Linked DNA regions of Homo sapiens. The protein of the gene in region 2 interacts with the protein of the main gene of each other region in a biochemical or structural test. Each region holds a gene or a part of one and is shown on either strand. Other genes may lie near its edges. The genes, in order: NMRAL1, USP1 and BCAT2.

Evidence for each region.
Region 1: the proteins of USP1 (region 2) and NMRAL1 form a complex in vitro, tested with the Homo sapiens proteins (one study listed by BioGRID).
Region 3: the proteins of USP1 (region 2) and BCAT2 form a complex in vitro, tested with the Homo sapiens proteins (one study listed by BioGRID).

The regions. Positions count from the first base shown.
Region 1 is NC_000016.10:4,461,156-4,464,741, forward strand, and holds the end of NMRAL1 (nmrA-like family domain-containing protein 1), read right to left. Parts: intron 2,696-3,586; coding exon 2,505-2,695; coding exon of another isoform or gene 2,487-2,504; intron 2,358-2,486; coding exon of another isoform or gene 2,322-2,357; exon of another isoform or gene 2,265-2,321; intron 805-2,264; coding exon 625-804; 3' UTR 539-624; downstream 1-538. UniProt on the Homo sapiens protein: Redox sensor protein. Undergoes restructuring and subcellular redistribution in response to changes in intracellular NADPH/NADP(+) levels.
Region 2 is NC_000001.11:62,446,895-62,449,676, reverse strand, and holds part of USP1 (ubiquitin carboxyl-terminal hydrolase 1), read right to left. Parts: intron 2,337-2,782; coding exon 2,166-2,336; intron 1,213-2,165; coding exon 1,011-1,212; intron 1-1,010. UniProt on the Homo sapiens protein: Negative regulator of DNA damage repair which specifically deubiquitinates monoubiquitinated FANCD2. Also involved in PCNA-mediated translesion synthesis (TLS) by deubiquitinating monoubiquitinated PCNA.
Region 3 is NC_000019.10:48,800,942-48,804,595, forward strand, and holds part of BCAT2 (branched-chain-amino-acid aminotransferase, mitochondrial isoform a precursor), read right to left. Parts: intron 1-3,654. UniProt on the Homo sapiens protein: Catalyzes the first reaction in the catabolism of the essential branched chain amino acids leucine, isoleucine, and valine. May also function as a transporter of branched chain alpha-keto acids.

The DNA.
Region 1 (3,586 bases), on a different chromosome or scaffold from region 2:
GAAAGGGAGAAGCCCATATCTCCCCCGCCTCCCTGCAGAGCCTGTCTCCAGTTCACATGTGCAGATGGCCTCACTAGCTCTGGAGATGAAAGGGGTGTGTCAGAAGCTCGGCTCCTGGGGCTCCTCTGTGTCCTGTGCTATGTCCCCGTCTGTGAATGAATTTCAAATGTGGGAACAGAGGCTGCTGGTCAGAGCTGTTCTGCTAGCTGAGGTCAGAACAGGCCACTTCACACCTGTCTGACTAAACACGTTTAGGTCACTCGTCCCAGTCACCAAGTGATCCCTTCAGCCTTGGACCCTCCCTTACTGCTGTGTTGGTACAGCCCTGGAGCCACCCCTTACTGCTGTGTTGGTACAACCCCGGGTCCCCTCACTTACTGCTGTGTTGGTACAGCCCTGGACCCCCCCCCCCCGCTCCAACTTACTGCTGTGTTGGTACAGCCCCGGACCCTCCCCAACCACTTACTGTTGTGTTGGTACACAACTACCACCCCAACCCAAGTCCTGGAAGCAGAGTCCTCTTCTCCTGGAAGCCATCTGGGAGAACAATGGCTTTATTCAGATGTTGGTGCCTCTGCCCCTCTGGTGCCCCCGATCCCCACAAGGGGCCGCGAGGCGGGCAGGTCACAGCAGGTTGAAGTCCCCTTTGTGCTGTTCCAGCCACTGGTCCAGCGTCAGGGCCTTGGGGTTGAGTCTCAGGGTCAGCTCGATGTCACGGTCGGGTCTCAGGGCATAGAAACGGAACATGTTGGCCAGGTCCCGGGCACCGGGAAAGCCAAGCTTTTCGTAGTCCTCAGGAGTCATCTGGAAGCAGAGGAGCCTGTCGTGGCCGGCGTCCTCCAGTGCCCCGGGAGGTGGCGGGGCAGGGAGGCCGGATGGGCTGGGGTCTCCCGACCTGCTACACCCAGAGCCACTATTGTCTCGGTCCCTGACCCAGGTCCTCCGTACAAGGTCATTTGAAAACTTCTAAGAGCCGAAAGTTCAGAAACTGCTGCTCTCCTGAGCTGCCTGACATTGTAGATCAGTTTAAAGATTGTTCTTGGCCAGATGCTGTGGCTCATGCCCGTAATCCCTGCACTTTGGGAGGCTGAGGCAGGCAAATCTCTTGAGGCCAGGAGTTCGAGACCAGCGTGGCCAACACGATAAAACCCCGTCTCTTTCAAAAATACAAAAATTAGCCAGCCTGGTGGTAGGTGCGTGTAATCCCAGCTACTTAGGAGGCTGAGACAGGAGAATCGCTTGAAACCAGGAGGTGGAGGTTGCAGTGAGCTGAGATCACCCCACTGTACTCCAGCCTGGGCAACAAGAGTGAGACCCTGTCTCAAAAATGAATAAATAAAAAGACTATTATTTTCAGATCATGAGACGAAAATATCTCAGTCCCTTCCAAATCAGAGACCTGCCTGCATCACTTTCTTTCTCAAAAACCAAAGCTTGACCAGACACAGTGGCTCACACCTGTCATCCCAGCACTTTGGGAGGTGGAGGTGGGAGGATCGCTTGAGCCCAGGAGTTAGGCCCACCACGCCGGGCTAATTTTTTGTATTTTTAGTAGAGACGGGGTTTCACCGTGTTAGTCAGGATGGTCTCGATTTCCTGACCTTGTAATTGCCCGCCTCAGCCTCCCAAAGTGCTAGGATTACAGGTGTGAGCTACCGCGCCTGACCCAACTTTCGTCTTTTAAGGACTCCAGTGTTTCCCAGATTCTTTTTTTTTTTTGGAGTTGGAGTCTCGCTCTGTCGCCCAGTCTGGAGTGCAGTGGCATCTCGGCTCGCTGCAAACTCTGCCTCCTGAGTTCAAGCGATTCTCTTGCCTCAGCCTCCCAAGTAGCTGGGATTACAGGCGCCTGCCACCACACCCGGCTAATTTGTTTATTTTTAGTAGAGATGGGGTTTCACCCTGTTGGCCAGGCTGGTCTCAAACTCCTGACCTCAGGTGATCCACCTGCCTCGGCCTCCCAAAGTGCTGGGATTACAGGCGTGAGCTACTGCACCCAGCCTCCCAGATTCTTTAATGAGTATGTCTTACTTTCCTAATGGTAATGACAAACATTAGAAACCAGGTACCCAAGAGTCTGTCCAGTAGGCCTCCTGCCCACCCAGCCAGGCCAATGGGGGCAGGGGTCGGCCCTATCTTTCTAGCCTCTTTCCCTTTAAATCCCCTCCCACAGGGGAGGGGTCGGGTCTATCTTTCCAGACTCTTTTCTCTTCAAATTCCCTCCCACAGAGGAGCCCGGCAGGGCCTGCATTTTCACCCCTCCTTGCCTTGGCTCCTATGGCCCTCTCCTCCTGGAAGCTTTTCTCTCTATTTGGTCAAAACATCTAAGCCAGAAATTTCACTCTGTGGCCAGTTAGCTCCTGGAACAGCAGAAAATAAACGTTGACGATGAACGAATGAATTTAGATGTACTGCCCAGAGGTGTGGGCAGCCCTGGACACACCCTCCCTACGGGAGCTAGAAAGCCCTGACAAGGATGCCTGAGTCACCTGGGGCGGGAGGCCCACCTTGGCATCGTGCACGACCTTGCGGGTGTGCTTGGTGAGCAGGGCAGCGTACTCCTCGGCCGTGTGCCTGCAAGTGCTCAGCCCGATGTTCTGGCCGACGTATTTTTCTGGCATCTTCAAAAGGCTGAGCACCACAGGACCCAGGTCAGACACGGACATGCCATCCATGGGAACGTCACCTGTGGGCAAGCCTGTGGGGCAGAGACGTGAGCTGGTATATGTCCCGAGGGCAGACAGGGGCAGGGACAGAGCCCCTCTCCAAAGGGTCCAAGCTGGTTCTTCCCAGCAGTCAGCTGCACACTCCAGCACTCGGGCATAGCTAAGACAAGTCTTGCTATTTGTGGTAGCACAGAGGCAGCAGTGGAATTGAGTCAGGAAACGGGATGGAATCCGGGTACTGCCACCTAGGGCAGGCTGTTGAGGCTCTCTGAGCCTGGGTTGCTGCATTCCTAGAATGGGGCTAAGAACCTGGGCCTGCCCAGCTCTCTCAGCGCTAGGATGACAGAGAAGGGACAAAGGAAAAGGACTCTGAAAGCTGCTACAGAGAGTGTGGCTGGAGCCCAGGGTCTCCGCTAATCTGGAGGCACCAGCCTGAAGTACTCTGTCATATCCTAGATTCCTGGAAGCTGGAACGTCCACCTCTGAGTAGATACTCCAAATACCAACTCACTTACCAGGAATCCTGATTAACCAGACACCAACGGCTGGCCTAGAGCAGCACGTCCATGATAAATGCTTCATAAATCCTGAATGAATGAATGACTCGCAAACTTCCAGGCTGAGGTTTTGTAGATGGGGAGGCTGGCAACTGTCTGGGTGTGGCCTGTGGAATGCTTGGGTCCTATCCTCCTTACCTAGAGACAGGGGCCAGTGCAGCTTCCTGTTCAGATCACCTGGGAGCTCGAGGGCACAGAGCGCACAGACCGGAGCAGGAGATATCCCTGACTGCAGGTTTTTTTTTTTTTTTTTTTTTGAGATGGAGTCTCGCTCTGTCGCCCAGGCTGGAGTGCAGTGGCGCAATCTTGGCTCACCACAAGCTCCACCTCCCGGGTTCACACCATTCTCCTGCCTCAGCCTCCCGA
Region 2 (2,782 bases):
CCCAAAGTGCTAGGATTACAGGTGTGAGCCACCCACGCCCAGCCCATTTTAGTCATTTTTAGTGTGAAGTTTTTCTCTACCAAAATTTGGGAAAGTAAATAAAATAGTATTTTATACTATTAGCAAAGGGAAGGTCCACTGAATAAGGGGCTATATGTTATCTTTTGACATAATCAAGTGTGAGAGAGCTACTGTGAAGCCCTCGTGGTAATTTCAAACAAGCAACTAATGTACAAAGGAGTCACACATACAATGACATTACACATGTCAGAAAAAAACAGACTATCCAAAACAATCAGCATTTTTTTTCAAACTGTTGAAAGACTAGTTTGATTTCCTGGCTTACCTTAAAACTAGGAAGAATTTAGCCTTTCCCGCCCCTTCAAAAAAATCTTGATGTATACAAAATTTGTTCCCTGCTTTAGTCAGTTCTACTGAATTCTGCTACTAACATCTAAGAGGGAATGAATATGAAAAGATGAATAAAGAAACTGGCCGGGCATGGTGGCTCACGCCTGTAATCCCAGCACTTTGTGAGGCTAAGGCAGGTGGATTGCTTGAGTCCAGAAGTTCAAGATCAGACTGGGCAACATGGTGAAATCCTGTCTCTACTAAAAATACAAAAAATTAGCTGGGCATGGTGGCATGCACCTGTAGTCCCAGCTACTCAGAAGGCTGAGGTGGGAGAACCACCTGAGCCTGGGAGGTCAAGACTGCAGTGAGCTGAGGCTGTGCCACTACACTCCAGCCTGGACAACTGGAATGAGACCCTGTTTCAAAAAAAAAAGGAGAAGAAATCATACTTAATAGAATATGTATTCATATCAAAAGGATTTAAGTTGTTTCATTTTTACAGGGAAACTGTTAATAAGAACAAAACTTTACTGAAGCAATCTTTACAATCTACTTCATTTCAGTACTTTATATTCCTACTATTACAGCATTTTGAACAAGACTTATCTTCTACAGCAGCTCATTTTCTTCATATAGTTCTTATTTACAATACTTACTCCAAACCACTAGCAGCAAAGCACTTCAAATGAATAGTTATAACTTCAGGCATTTTGTCAAACAAAAGACTTCGTTCAGCTTCAGTATAATGATGGCAGTTTTCACAGAAATATTTATCTTCTCCTACAATCCTTTCTACTGAAGCAAATTGTGAAATTGCCCATCTCAGGGTCTTCATTTCTGTTTTTGGCTCTGGAGAAACTAAAAAAGAGAATCCTTTCACTCAAATACTTCTCTCAGGCATTCAAAAAATAAACCACAAAGTTTCAGGTTCAAAATTAGCATTTAATTTCAATTGACCGACCCATTCCTAAATAACTAAAGAGATTTTTACTTTCAGAAACTACTTTCATAAGTGCATCCTCAACAGTATACATACCTTTTAAATATATTTGATCGGCCAAAAAATATGATAGACAGCAAAAACAAAATAAGCCTAGTCTGTTTACATTTAATTGCCAACTTTCAATATGTGATAGGTAAACCTGTCTCATGATTATTTCCTATGGTATTTCCATATTTTGTGGTATGCTCTAGACACAACAGTGGCTCAATTATTGTGTTAAAAACAACCTCAGTAGGCCAGGCGCGGTGGCTCACGCCTGTAATCCCAGCACTTTGGGAGGCCAAGGCGGGCGGATCACGAGGTCAGGAGATTGAGACCATCCTGGCTAACATGGTGAAACCCCGTCTCTACTAAAAATACAAAAAATTAGCCGGGCGTGGTGGTGGGCACCTGCAGTCCCAGCTACTCAGGAGGCTGAGGCAGGAGAATGGCATGAACCCAGAAGGCGGAGCTTGCAGTGAGCCGAGATCACGCCACTGCACTCCAGCCTGGGCAACCGAGCAAGACTCCATCTCAAAAAAATTAAAAAAAACCCTCAGTAGCTCTGAAAGACTCAGGTTCCCAAAAGTACACTTATTAAAGCATTTCAGTTTTCCATTCTAACACACTCTACATCAAAATCAAGATGTCACAATTTCCCAAATGCTAACCATTTATAAGTGAAGCCAGATAAGCAGAAAGGTTACATTAGACACTAAAAGCTAGCTTTTTTCCCCTCCCTAATTACACCAGCTACTATTAAACTTTGTGTTGTTAAAGAATTATAAATATTCCATCATGGTCCACACAAGACTCCAATTTTGCTTACTTTCAGAACTCTCCTCTACTTTGGAAAGCTCATCTTCTTGTACTGGCACACTGATGTCTTGAAAATCTTCTCTTCTTTCTGTTAAACTTTCACATTCCAAGCAACGCGTCCTTAATACCAGCTGACCTTGAAATAATTTCTCCACTAGCTCAAAACCAATTTGTTCTTCACCTAAAATGAAAATAGGAAAATGTAAGTCTATACAGATTAGTTTCTCATTATAGTCCAAATAACCAATTTTCCATTTAAATAAAGTATATCATGAATAACAGTTCCATTTTCATAGATCAGCTTATTAGCATTATTAGCTTATTAGAGGTACCCTATTAATGAAATTTAAGGTCCCTGTAAAGATAAAACTGACTATGAAATTACTGTCTTTAAAAGAAGTCAGTTGTAGGCCGGGCACAGTGGCTTAAGCCTGTAATCCCAAGACTTTGGGAGGCTGAGGCGGGCAGATCACCTGAGGTCGGAGTTCAAGACCAGCCTGACCAACATGGAGAAACCCTGTCTCCAGTAAAAATACAAAATTAGCCGGGTGTGGTGGTGCATGCCTGTAATCACAGCTACTCGGGAGGCTGAGGCAGGAGGATCGCTTGAACCCGGGAGGTGGAGGT
Region 3 (3,654 bases), on a different chromosome or scaffold from region 2:
GCACCAGGGTAGGCAGCGCTTGGCACAGAGTGTTTTTTTGTTTTGTTTTGTTTTGTTTTGTTTTGAGACAGGGTCTCACTCTGTCACCCAGGCTGGAGTGCAGTGGCGTGATCTCTGCTGATTGCAACCTCCGCCTCCCAGGTCCAAGTGATTCTTGTGCCTCGGCCTCCTGGGTAGCTGGGATTACAGGCGCCCACCACCACGCCCAGCTAATTTTTGTATTTTTAGTTGATCCACCCGCCTCAGCCTCCCAAAGTGCTAGGATTACAGGGGTGAGCCACTGCACCCAGCCAGACTTTTTTTTTTTTTCCCATAGTGGGTTTTTGATGAATGAATAGATAAATGAATGGAAGACAAGCAAAACTAGCTACAATATTTTGGGGGGATAAAAACCACCACCACAAAAATGAGGGGCAAGATGGGGCAGGGGCAGGGAGTAGCCATATCAGGTAGTAAAACATTATAAATCTACAATACTTAAAACAGAGTGACACTGCTATATGAGTGGACAGACTGAATAATGGAATAGATAACCAAATATCCATCTAGAGAAAAACTACGTTGAATCTCTATTTCACACCTCACACCAGAAAAAATTCCAGGTGCATTAAAAGTCTAAACAAAATATATATATATATATTACACCATAAAAGCTATAGAAGGAAACAAAAATAACTGTTTTATATCTTGGATTGGGAATTTTATTTTTTATTTTATTTGAGATGGAGTCTCACTCTGTTGCCCAGGCTGAAGTGCTCTATCTTGGCTCACTGCAACCTCTACCTCCCAGGTTCAAGCAATTCTTTTGCCTCAACCTCCCAAGTAGCTGGGATTACAGGTGCCTACAACCACGCCCGGCTAATTTTTGTGTTTTTGGTAGAGACGGGGTTTCACCACGTTGGCCAGGCTGGTCTTGAACTCCTGACCTCAGGTGATGCGCCCACCTCGGCCTCCCAAAGTGCTGGGATTACAGGCGTGAGCCACCACGACTGGACTTTTTTTTTTTTTCCAATTTCTTGTACAGATAGGGTCTTACTATGTTGCCCAGGCTGGTCTTGAACTCCTGAGCTCAAGCAATCCCCCTGCCTCTTCTTCCCAGCCCCAGATGAATTTTTTAAAACCTAACCTGATAGAAAAATCAGCCTAGCAAATGGACAGTTCACACAAAAGGAAATACAGGTGGCCCTTAAGCTCGTGAGAAGATAGTCAATTTCATTAATCACTAGGGAGAAAAATGCAAATTAAAATTAGTTTGAGATACCTTTAAAACCACATGGGAGATTGGAAAAGATCTAAAACTTGGACAAGGGTTGTCCAAGGTATGGAAACAGGCTCTGCTGGTGGGTGTGGAAACTGACACACCCTGTAGATGTAGATGTGGCGATACGTATCAAGATTACAAGCATACATATCCTTTGACCTACAGTTCCCGAAATTGAGCCTCTAGATACATTTGCACTTAAACAAGTGACTAAAGAAGGGACGTGTGTACTGGATTCCTTTTTTTTTTTTTTTTTTTTTTTTGAGATGGAGTCTCACTCTGCCACCCAGGCTGGAGTGCAGTGGCGCAATCTCGGCTCACTGCAACCTCCGCCTCCCGGGTTCAAGCAATTCTCCTGCCTCAGCCTCCCGAGTACCTGGGATTACAGGCACCCGCCACCACACCCAGCTAATTTTTGTATATTTAGTAGAGATGGGGTTTCACCATGTTGGCAAAGCTGGTCTTGAACTCCTGACCTCAGGTGACCCACCTGCCTCAGCCTCCCAAAGTGCTGGGATTGCAGGTGAGCCATCACAGCCGGCCCTGTACTAGATTCTTTATTGCAAAATTGTTTATAATAGACTGGAAACAACCTAAGTGTCCAACAGTAGGGGATTGCCTAAGGAGGTGCATTGTTAGGATGATACAGCATGAGGCTGCAAGAAAGATGGAAAAAGCTCTTTAAGCTTTAAGGTATAGAGAAGAATTTCCAGGCCCAGTATGATGGCTCATACCTGTAACCCCAGAACTGGGAGGCTAAGGTGGGAGAATTGCTTGAAGCCAGGAGTTCGAGACCAGCCTGGGCAACAAAGTGAGATCCTGTCTTTGCACAAGATTTAAAAATTAACTGGGCAAGGTGGTGTGTGCCTGTAGTCCTAGCCACTCGGGAGGCAGAGGCAGGAGGATCACTTGAGCCTAGGAGGCGGAGGTTGCAGTGAGCTGAGACCATGCCACTGCACTCCAGCCTGGGAAACAGAGCAAGACACCGTCTCAAAAACAAAACAAAACAAAACCCAGGTAAAAGAGCCCGGATACACCGGATATAGTGGCTCATGCCTGCAATCCCAGGACTTTGGGAGGCTGAGGCAGGAGGATCACTTGAGCTTAGAAATCTGAGATCACCCTGGGCAACATAACAAGACCCCATCCCTAAAAAAAAATAAAATAAAATAAAAATTAGCTGGGCATGGTGGTGCACACCTGCAGTCCCAGCTACTTGGAAGGCTGACGCAGGTGGATCGCTGGAGCCTGGGAGGTCAAGGCTGCAGTGAGCCAAGATCGTGCCACTGCACTCCAGCCTGGGCTACAGAGCAAGACCCTTTCTCAAAAAAAGAGTCATAACAACAACAACAAAAATGCAGGTGGCCAGGCTTGGTGACTCACGCCTGTAATCCCAGCACTTTGGGAGGCCGAAGCAGGTGGATCACTTGAGCTCAGGAGTTCAAAACCAGCCTGGGTAACATGGTGAAACCCCATCCCTATTATTTAAAGATAATAAATAAACAAATACAGGTAGACAAAGACAGAAAGCAGACTAATGGTTGTCATGGGCTGGGGTGAGGGACAATGGGTACTGATTAATAGGTATGGGGGATTAAACAGTTCTGAACCTTGATGGTGCTGATGGTTGCATAACATTGCCTGCCACTGAATTATGGGCTTTAAAATGGTTGGAGGCTGGGCGCCGTGGCTCACGCCAGTAATCCCAGCCCTTTGGGAGGATGAGGCGGTGGATCATCTGAGGTCGGGAGTTTGAGACCAGCCTGGCCAACGTGGTGAAACCGTGTCTCTACTAAATATACAAAAATTAGCCAATAGTGGTGCATGTCTATAATCCCAGCTACTCAGGAGGCTGAGGCAGGAGAATCACTTGAACCTGGGAGGCAGAGGTTGCAGTGAGCCAAGATTGTGCCACTGCACTCCAGCCTGGGCAACAAGAGTGAAACTCTATCTCATAAATAAATAAACAAACAAACAAACAAATAAAATGGTTGGAATCCCACATTTGATGCTGTGTGTTATTATGTATGCGTATTAGTACCACAATAATAAAAAATAAGGCCAGGCATGGTGGCTCACGCCTGCAATCCCAGCACTTTGGGAGGCTGAGGTGGGCAGATCACTTGAGGCCAGGAGTTCGAAAACAGCCTGGCCAACATGGTGAAACCCTGGCTTTACTAAAAATACAAAAATTAGCCGGGTGTGGTGGCGGGCGCCTGTAATCCCAGCTACTGGGGAGGCTGAGGCAGGAGAATCACTTGAACCCGGGAGGCGGAGGTTGCAGTGAGCGAGATTGTATCATTGCACTCCAACCTGGGGGACAGAGTGAGACTCTGTCTCTAAATAAATAAATAAGAAAAAATAAAATAAAAAATAATACACGTGGTCGGCCT